Linked DNA regions of Homo sapiens: region 1 is linked to region 2. The links come from fine-mapping of genetic effects on gene expression. Tissue or cell type: thyroid. Region 2 holds a variant in brackets; the other region holds the start of a gene. All regions are shown on one strand. Distances are from middle to middle.

Region 1 (5,384 bases), 36 kb before region 2:
TCCACTGATTGTGCCACAAAAGTCATTTATAGGTTTTGGATCCCATTCAAGATCACATGCTGCATTTAGTTGTCTCATCTCTTTAGCATCCTTCAATCTGAAACCATCTTTACTATCATAGTCTTGACATTTTTAAAGAATACAGGCCAGTTATTTGATTTTTCTTTCAATTTGCATTTGTCTGATGTTTTATCCTAACTTACATATTTATGCATAAGAAGTGACACTACATTCTCAGCATATCATATCAGGATGCTGCACAAGGCTGATTTGTCCCATCACTGGTTTTCATTTATGTAAAATTTTACCAGTCGATTAAGATGATACCTCCCAAGTATTACAGCTGCATGTTAATAAGTATGCTGTACTTATTAATAATTAATGATGTATTAATGAACATTTTTAGAGATATGCTTTGAGACTATGTAAATATCCTGTTCCTCATCAAACTTTTACCCACCAATTTTAGCATTTATTGATGATTCTGGCCTGAATCAATTATTAAGATGGTGGTTGCCAAATGGTGGTTTTCTAATTCTATCTTTTCTTCTTCATTTATTAGTCGCATTCTACTATAGAGTTCCCTTCTCTGTTTCTATCAGCATGGACTCATGGACTCTTATTTTACTCAAAGGGTTAAATTTGTCATTAACTATTTTACTCCTTAAATAGTTCAAGATTTGGCCAACAGGAACCCCTTCAAGCTGACTTCTGTCTTCTTTTGACATGTCTCCATAATTCTTTAAGTATTTTCTCATTTCCTTGCACAACAAATTATTCTAGTTTCATCCACTATACCAAGGAACTGTGGTTCCTTTCAGTGGAGGATGGTATTAAGAAACCAAGGTCTGAGTGTTAGGTGTGTTCATTGCTACTGGGGTGCCATTGCTTTTAGGCCTTCTCAGTCGACAAACCTAGGAAATATATCACCATATACACACACATATACACTTATATTTTTCTGTCTATCTATCTATAATCTCTTTGGATCCAAAATCATTTTACACCTTCATCTCCAACTTCAAGGCACATAGCTAGATCTCTTGCCTTTCTGTATTGGTAATTCCCTTCTCCAGCAGTGAGATGACTGGCTCCAATTTTCTTAATGTATTTACTTCTTTGCTCAATTCCCTAGCACATAAACCAATCTCTTGGCCATGTCAGCAAAAAATGTGTCCTGTCTCTATTACATACATATATATATAAAATACCCCCCACATACATACACATACATATGAAATCAGATATTTTATGTATAAGAAACCATACTACATAGATATATCAGGAATCCCATATAATACACAAAATGTATCAATATGAAAATACATATCTAATTCCTATAAATATCTGATTTCACATATTTTTTTTTAAAGAGAAGTACACAGTAAGGCTTTCTTCTGATGAGCCTGGAGCCTGCTGTTTATACTTCCACAGTATTATTCCTTCATGCTGTACTTGGCCCTCAAGGAGCTGCTAGCCTCAGAAATGCAGAGTTCCCACTGGGTGTGGTGGCTCAAGTCTGTAATCCCAGCACTTTGGGTGGCCAAGGCGGGTGGATCATCTGAGGTCAGGAATTTGAGACCAGCTTGGCCAACATGGTGAAACCCCATCTCTACTGAAAACACACAAAAAATTAGCTGGCAGGCACCTGTAATCCCAGCTACTTGGGAGGCTGAGGCAGGAGAATCGCTTGAACCTGGGAGGCGGAGGTTGCAGTGAGCGAAGATTGCACCACCACACTCCAGCCTGGGCAACAAGAAGGAAACTACGTCTCAAAAAAAAAAAAAAAAAAAAAAAAAAAAAAAAAAAAAAAAGCAGAGCTCCTCAAAGCGGAAGTTTCCCTAGTTGCTACCTTTCGCTCCATGTACAGCCTATTCTTTAACTGTGACAAACGGCCACAGCCAGCTCCACAACCGGCTTGAGCCAAGTATTGAGCCTGAGGAAAGAAAGATTTTATATTTCAGCTTTAATAAACAACTGGGACATCTGTTACAATTCTATTTTCCTCACTAGGCTGGGTATGGTTTCTCTTGGTTGCAGGTTTCCCCCCACCCCCCGCCTTTCTGTGTACTAAGCCTACCATAACACACATGTCTGCTTGTGTGTTATCCCATTCGACGTGAAGGCTTCAGGGCAGAGACTGCTTCCTTTATTATCCATTTCTAATGTTAGAAGAGGGTCTAACACAGAGCAGGTGCTATTTGTCTATTGAAGGAAAGAATGAATACATCCATTAATCAATGTAGAATGGCGGGAAAAGACACAATTTGGGAAGGAGACTTTACTCTTTAACTTCTGGACCCATGTGAATGAGGAGTCCAGGTCATCCATCGTTAAAGGCATTTAGGTATTTTATTTCAAGTATTTTTCCCCTTTTCTGGTGACATACTACAATTCAGGACTAAATCTCAAATTTATTCTTGATATTGATAGCATTGATATTGCACACAAATCCCACGGTTACCGTCCAGCACTAGTGATCTTGTCCTATTTCCACCTGCAGCTTTTTGAATCTAAGTACACATCGCATTTCAAAACTCCCACGTTAAAGAAAGGCATCAGTTCAAGTTACTTTCTCATTTTCTGTCTTCGACTTTTTTCTGCTTCCCCCAAGAATATCTGAGAGTTACTTTTCTCGAAAGTTCTTTTGTAGTGTTCCAGATAGGAATCATCCTGTAATATTCCAAATGCAGCGTGTGGTGTGCATGTTGAATACATAAAAATGACGAGGTTAGGAACAATATCGCTGACGGTCGCGGTGTCCCGTTTTAATTTAGAGGGCGCCAGCAACACGTCAGTGAGGGAGATTCAGAAGCCGCCGGGCACCTCACCCCGGGCCGGGAATCCCTAAGAGAACCTTGACGCCGCTGAAGTTTCCGGACCGGGCCAGTTTGGAATTGACGAAAGCAGCCTCCGCCCGGTCGAGCCAGTCTCTCGGTTTTCTCGGCGGCTTCTTGAGGATGAGGCATTTCTAGGTTTTCTCCTCCTCGAGCAAATCACGGTCTGCGCCTTCCGCGGCTCTGGGAACAGGTGAGCCGTGCGGCGGCGCCCGCGGGACGCGCTCAGGTGCCGGTCCCCGCCCGCCGGCCCCTCCCTGCAGCACGCGGTCCGGGCCCAGGTGCCGGGGCCCAGGTGCCGGCGCCCAGGTGCGCGGGGCACGGGGCTGCAGCTCCGCTCGGCATCCGACAGCGGGCGCCGCTGCAGCAGCTCGCGGGCCGCGGAGCTGAACGGCTTCGCGAGTTGGGGCAGCTCCTCGCGCTCGGCCCTGCTCGGCGGCGAGAGCTCCGCCTGGGCGCCGCGTTCCTACAGCCGCCGGAGCCGCCAGGCGCCGAGGGAACGGACAGACCTCCGCGCACCCTTGCCGACCGGGGCGGGCAGAGGCGGGCAAGCGGCGAACGCCTGGGAGCGCGGAGAGCCAGGCCAGCCCGGAGCGCGCCGGGGACACCCTGTGCGCCCCGAGTCCCGGCACCATGCGACCCGCCGCGCGTCCTCGCGGGCCCGGGGCTTCGCTCTTCGCTCGCTGAGCCCCTGCGCTCGCCACCACGGAAACTCGGAAAGAGGAGGCGAGGCTGTGGGGAGCGGCGCGGAGACGGACTAGACTTCCCCTCCGCCCCCAAGAGGCTGCCGGTCCCCGGTTCCCTGGGCTTCTCCAGCTTTATCATGAACCTGGCGCAAGGTTGGCTTTAGGAAAAATTCTGGAGCCAGAGGGAGAGTCAAGGCAATTCTTTGGTTGCTAAGGTAATTGTAGTTGTGATAAAAAATGGGCAAGAAACAAATGGGGGAAAAACATGGTTTAAAACAGTATCCTCCCTCCCCACCCCATTAATATGTGTTGATTTCATCTCCTGGGTGTGGGTGCTTGTCCATTTCAGATGCGTGACAGGTGCCCGTGTGTGTGTGTCTGCAGTTTGGGACTGTGGAAGCACGAGCTTACATAAGTGGTTAGGCAAGCTGGCGTGTGGACTTGTGTGGGATGGGTGCAGGTCTGCATATAAATCATGTTCCTGGGTTTCTGGGTGTGAAGCGCACACCGACGGGGACGAGAGCGCAGAGGATGGCGCTTTTAGATACTTCCAGTCTTCCGATGTTGTGATCGCAGGTAGGGCAGCTTTGCCTCTAATCAGGCGTTCATTAACTTTTTCCCTGAACAAGCTCGCCCATTTGTGGTTTGGAAGAAAAGAAAGCGAGTCTCCGCGGTGAGGTGTGGAGGGCAGGGGCGGGTGGGGAGGTTTGTTGTTTGGGAACTGCGCTAGCAAAGGAAGCGGTGGCTATTCGCTTGGAGAGGATGACAAATGAACTGGTTGCGTGAGGAGTGAAGAGACCGTGTTTACAGTCACCAGCAGGCTGCGTAAAGAAGTGGCCCAGTGAGACAGGGAAAGTGACCCAGAAAATTTAGTTTTGTTCAGAATGAAAGCTGCTGTATTTCATTTTTGTTTCTTAATTTGACGGAGTAGGAACGTTATTTTCCTTCTCTGTCATTGAGACCAGTAGCATTTCTATGTTACAAACTGAAGATATTTGGGGTCTCGTCGGCTTGGGATTATCAATGCTTGGGAGGTGAGTTCTGATCAATACCTTTAACAACCCCAAAGAAAAACGCAAAAATAATCAAGTTTAGGTAAAACTTCCACTGGACTTTCTTTCCAGGGAGGGTGAGAGATGGAAGAACTGGGCTTGTAAGTATCAAAATGGAGTTAGAGAATGAGCTACAAGTTTGTGTGTGTATGGTCTGTCAAAAAGTGTTAAGACTGAAAGGAAACTGTTAGGTTTAGTTAAATGTGTTGACAACACGGCTCTTACATATCAATTTTCATAGGCAAATAGGTAATTACATAGAGTGGGAACTGGGACTATGGTGGGAAACTTTCTGTAAGATGTATATTCTTTATTCTTAATTTATCACTTTTTCAATGGGTGGGACTACTCTGTGAAGGAAAGTAGAGGGCTGAGGGACATTTGGTGAGACTCTTGAGAGAGAAACCTTTGCAAGCCAAATCTCGCATGCTATAGATGATAAATTCTAAGTTCTTTGATATTGTACCACTCTTAAGCTAAATTGTCCTGTAAATATGATCTCATGCACCATAAACTATATATATGTAGAGAGAGTCTATTCCCAATAACTCATCCTTTCCTGAAAGAGTCTGCAAGTTCTATAAATGTCAGCTGTTGGGAGGTATTGTGATGAAGGAGAGAGGCCACCAGTGTTTCCTTTTATATATTTATTCTGGCAGATCTTAACTTTACTTCTGATTTTCTTTAAGGAATTTCAGTTAACATTCACTGAATTTATATTGCTGAGAGTTTCAGTAAAACAAGACTAGATTTTCTTTGAAGCAATAAATTCATCTTATCAAGTGAAACATTATGACAATGCTTTTGTG
Region 2 (5,384 bases):
ACACAAATAACTGTTATAGAGTCTAAATGTTAATTTCCAAAATAGATGTGCAAGTAGAGTGTTACATAATTTCAGAGGAGGAGGCCAGTTCTCCCAGCCTCAGAGGTGAGAATGGGCTTGTGGAAGAGTGGTCTTTGAACTCAGTTTTAAAATATGTGCAGGATTGCTTTATGTGGAAAGCAGAGAGGAAGAACATACCAGGTGATGAGATGTTTCAGCAAGGGCACAGAGCTGAGGAAAGTAACAGCAACCGGAACTGGTTAGCTTGGACATAGGATGCATTACAAGGAGTAAATGGAGATAGGATTTTGGGAAGAGAGGCTGGCTGGAGCCAGATGTTAGTGTTGAATTAGACAATTTAATCAAGAAAAACTTCTGTGCCAAGAGTTGCAAGATTGAGATCTCTTTGGGATTATGACTGTTGCCCCATTGTGCTGAATGGATTGTTATCAAGATAGAGCGGAGGCTCTAGGAGAGAGATTTCTGTGTCTGTGTGAAAGGTAAGGAGGGAAAGGAGAGACACTAATCCAGCCTGTGAAATCACCTTCAGAATTAAGAGAAACTGATAAGAGGAATTAAAGTCTGGATTAAAAATGACTTGGAAACTGAAGGAATATAGGCGGCAAGTAGAGGGTCAAAGATGACGGGGTTTTTGACGTTGGGTAAATGAAAATCATTGGTGCTATTAATTCAAATTGGGATATTTGGAAAAAGAATACATTTTAAAGGAAGAAAATGGCACATAAGTTTATTTTAGTACATGCTGAATTTGACATAATTGCTTCTTATTGTACACCTTTTTGATGTTTGCATGTTTGTGAAAATTTAAACTAACTCTCTTGTATGTTAATAAGGAAATAAGTTAATGTTCATTTCACTAACTACTTGAGTTTCTACTCAGTTCTGTGCATTCTGAGAGGCTCTGTGTATTACTTATATGGGCAATGTGGAACTAGATATTCCTGGATGATCAATATGGTGAATTTTTCTCTTTTCCTTGTAAAAATAGAGTTCTCAAATTATTCTGGCTTTGAGTGTAAGATTCTGTAATTCTTTGCTTTGCAAGAGAATGTCTAGATAACCCATCTCTAAGAATCATGCTTATTAAATTGCGATAAAGAAAAAAATAGGTTAATGGGACTCAGCAATTAGTGAAACATACAGAATAATAGACATTGAGTCATTGTTACTTTCTTAACCCACCCCCAAACTGGGAGACCCCGTGCCAGGCTGGTAGGAACATGGGCTTTGGAGTGAGACTTAGGTTAAAATGCCAACTTTACCACTCTTTAGCAGTATGACTGTAAGTTAGTTCTTTAACTTCCATGAGCCACAATTTTTTCATCTGTAAAAAGAAAAAAAAATGTGGGAGGAAGGTAATTGTGAAGATCACTTTAGATAAATCGAATGAGGCATCTTATATCCTACTTAGACCACAATGTGGTCCGTAATGAATATCTCTTTTTCTTTTCATGTTTAGGTCTTGTAGAGTCAGTGACACTTGGAGAGGAAATAAATGATAAAATCTCTAAATGTTGGTGCTGTTAATAAGTTGTCTAGAGCAAATTTATACAGTGAGTTTTTTTTTAAGACACAGGAAAACAATAAAAATATTTTTATATTCTTCAGAGGATTGCAAATTCATGGATTATTAAAGAATAAGAAATGCAAAGGTCATGTAACCCAACCACCTTTCTACTAGAATGTTTGTATTATGTTTACAGGAAAAAAAAACTTCCTGCAGGTTTATGAGAACTTGGTTTTTACTTTTTGGTGGTAGTAAGGGGCCCTTTTCTGGTTTAATTTAGTAACTAACATGTCAATTGCTGTAGTTCTTTAGAGAAATGACAACTAGTAATGAAACTATATCTTACTTTCGTGTGACAAACTTGTGTAAAGAGTATATATATATATATATATATGTTCATGTTTATTTGCTATATTAATTACCATAAAAGGGACATTGAATTGGTTCAGTCTGTTAGAAAGAAGACAC[A/G]CTTATTGCACAGTGTGAGCTCAGGTCCTGACACCATTTTAAACCTAGTTAACCTGACTGACTTAAACCATGGTTGTACTTGAACTATGGGATTTTCATATAGTTTTCTACTCCTGATGCTGTAGGCTGCCTTTTGGCTACAACCAAGAACTTACTTGCTGTAGGACATTATCCTCAAGGTATCATCAGTAAGGGTTGGATTGTGAAGCCAATGACAATTCAAAGCATTTTCTTTGGAAGTCCTTTTGTGTAATCAATTATTCAAAGTCATAGCCATAAACCCAAACCTTTCCTTAGATACCCACGACTACAATTTACATTTAAAAAATTGTGCTTTCATTTTTGTTTTCTTTCTCTTGTTTGTTGTTGTTGTTTTTTTTCTCTTGTTGTCAGACACTTTCAGTGTGAAATTTTTGCTTGGACTGCATTGTGTTGATTCAGATGCTGACATTTAAAAAGCCAAATCTAGAGAAATGAAGCTTTTGGGTAAACTTTCGAGTAATAAGTGGATGATTATGTCCATAATGTTGTTGTGACTTTTAAATGACATTTAGGATGGTAACCTCCTGACATATGAGTAATGATGGGTGGGTTTTTAAAGCCCACACTTTTCAGAACACTCTTCATTTCCTTTTCATGTTTTCATGTCATTAACTGTGAGAAGTTGTACTTTCCCAAGGCATGACTTATTTATTGACTTGAACAGACTTTCTAATTTAGTTTTTCATCCCTCATATTCACAGTTTGGATTGGAGGTGTGTATGAAAAATGTATTGGTCACATTAAAGATCTATTTAAAAGAAAACCTTAATTATTCATGAAGACACCCAGACCTGTTAACCTTTTTTATATTCCTGTATCCTTAGGATCCTGAGTTACTGAATTGCCCAGTGTAATGATGATATTTGAACCTAGCTATACATCACATCATTTAGGGTGCTTTATAAAAATGTTAATCCTCAAAGGACCCCCTCCACAAGGTATTTCTATTTAATAGGTCTGAGCTGGGTCCTAGGAATCTGAGTTTCAAGATGTTCTCAGGAAAATCTGATGCCCAACTAAGTTTGAAAAGCACTTACTTAGTCTTTTACAATATCCAGACATAGTATGTGTTGCAAAGTAATGAGAGAGTTGGTGTTTTGAATTAGATTTTTGATTTCATAATTATTTGTAGATCTCTCAAAACGTAGAAGAACCAAGCTCTTGTCATAGGGATTTTAGTAGCTTTTCCTTAGATATTTTCTAGTCTTATTTTATAGATGAAAGAACTAAAAGTATAGAGAGGGTGAGTAACTTGATTAAGGCTCCTCAGCACTTTCCCATGGAAGCCATAATGGTGTCCAGGGAGCCTGGCCACTCCAATCAGTTGCCTTTCTAGCACCCTATGCGACTACCATGTTATCAACCACAGACTACTGTTACCACATTGTTGGAGCTGAGTAGCCATGGGGCACATTAAATTAATGAAAATAATATGTGGCAGATCTTTGACTTTCATGTTTCTTCTGGGAGAGTTGACTTGGATTAATGTCTCACTTTTTTATTGATTTTTAAAAAATACTTTAAGTTCTAGGGTACATGTGCACAACGTGCAGGTTTGTTACATATGTATACATGTGCCATGTTGGTGTGCTGCACCCATTAACTCTCATTTACATTAGGCATGTCTCCTAATGCTTTCCCTCCCCACTCCTGCCACCCCACGACAGGCCCCAGTGTGTGATGTTCCCCTTCCTGTGTCCAAGTGTTCTCATTGTTCAATTCCCACCTGTGAGTGAGAAGATGCAGTGTTTGGTTTTTTGTTCTTGCAATAGTTTGCTGAGAATGATGGTTTCCAGCTTCATCCATGTCCCTACAAAGGACACGAACTCATCCTTTTTTATGGCTGCATAGTATTCCATGGTGTATATGTGCCACATTTTCTTAATCCAGTATATCATTGATGGAATGTCTCACATTTTTAATGCTAAAGTTTCATTCTACTCATTGGTGCTTTTGCTTCTTCGGTAAAGATTTTCTAAAATGTTTACATAGGTAAGATTGCTTTTGAGTAAGAGTAGGTTGCTTTCTGATTTTGTTTGGATCTTTGGTGTTAACAATGCCTCTTGACAAAGTTCTCCTAACTAGACTGGTAATTTGATTTGTTTGGGTCAGGAGGCATGGAAGACATCACACTCTGGATGTCTTCTACATCCAGAAGGATGGAGGCATGGCAGATGTCACACTCTGGATGTCTTCTACATCCAAAAGCTGGAGGCTCTGCCTGTCTGGTCCCAGCTTTGTGTGGAGAACTTCACTTTCCTGATTCTACTTCTTGTTTTGTTTTCTACCTTCTTCATTCTTTTCCTCCTTCCTTTTCAATTGTGAGATACTTCTAACACAAAAAGAATATATTCAGTGTCCATGTAAAGTAGAAAGAATTAAAAAATGAATTATATGCACTCACCATTAGCTTAATAAATAAAATGTAATACTTTGGCCTCATTTCCCCTTCTGTAAAGGGAGGAAATTGGTCTAAAAATGTACAAATACCTTTCTGCAATGATTTCAAAGTTCCATTCTATAACTTTTTGATCTTTCGTAAATTAGTACACTTCCCTGATATCAAAACAATGTTGTGAGACTATATGCACGTTTAAAGGTCTTTTGAGCTTTTGAAGAAATATTTTAGATAGTTGTAGGTAATCTAAATTGGATTGAGATAAAGCCCAGTTAAGTCAGGCATTAGAATAAAAAGCTTTAATTGTAATTATTTAATATTCAACAGTGGAATTTAGATGACATCTTGGTGGCAACCTGTTTCTTTGGCTTGCTAATAACATTTAAGACATTTATAAAATTATCATTTTGTAGTATTAATTATATGCTATATACATAACAAGTGGTGTTTAAGTAGCAACACTGTACATTGCCAGTAGTATATAGTGTCATAGATGAAATAGGGGTTTTAGAGGAAGACAAAAAAGGCCAATGTTCTTGTATATCAACAGGTTAGTTGCCTAGCCTCGTCACTGATGGCTTCCTTCACCTATTCATTTCTAGTTATTGACTCCTTTTCTGCTGGAATTTGAGTCTAGCCTTTATGTTGCTCTGATACCCCAAGGTCACTCTTCCTAATGATTTAGGGCCCTTGAAGTCCTGGGCAGTTGTTGGTTTAGGCATACATCCAGAAAGTAAATGTCACACTATTTTAGTTACATTGGCTGTGGTATGCAGCAAGAAGGGAAGGATCTAGCCTGGAAGAATCCGATGCTATGGAGGAAGCTAGGGATAGAGTGTGGTTTGGAATTCATAGAGGGCAGTGGTAGAAGCCAGCACAATTGAGAGTCTGGGGACCTGCAGGTCCTGGTGACTAAGGCATGATGAGGATTAGAAACTGTCGAATCAG

Which allele goes with the higher level. Alleles are on the strand shown, and positions count from the first base shown. SD is a standard deviation of normalised expression in the study named.
For the expression in thyroid of the gene that starts at base 3,226 in region 1, A is the low allele of the variant in region 2 and G is the other (small effect, 0.23 SD a copy in GTEx).

The links. PIP is the estimated chance that this variant, and not a neighbour inherited with it, causes the effect.
Region 1: it holds the start of RGS6, and the variant in region 2 is fine-mapped to the expression of RGS6 in thyroid (GTEx, PIP 0.98).

Annotation. Positions count from the first base shown.
Region 1 is chr14:71,929,204-71,934,587 of GRCh38, forward strand. It overlaps RGS6 (regulator of G protein signaling 6), which reads left to right and starts at 3,226. Exons shown (of 18, transcript NM_001204424.2): 1 at 3,226-3,738. It overlaps LOC124903404 (translation initiation factor IF-2-like), which reads left to right and starts at 2,723. Exons shown (of 2, transcript XM_047432046.1): 1 at 2,723-2,822; 2 at 2,966-3,687. The coding sequence starts at 2,723. The coding sequence ends at 3,687. RefSeq lists silencers at 3,015-3,294, 3,315-3,474.
Region 2 is chr14:71,965,289-71,970,672 of GRCh38, forward strand. All of the region lies in intron 2 of RGS6 (regulator of G protein signaling 6), which reads left to right. Among named protein-coding and RNA genes, the nearest start is that of RGS6, 36 kb to the left of the region's middle. The variant A/G (reference allele first, on the strand shown) is at 1,997.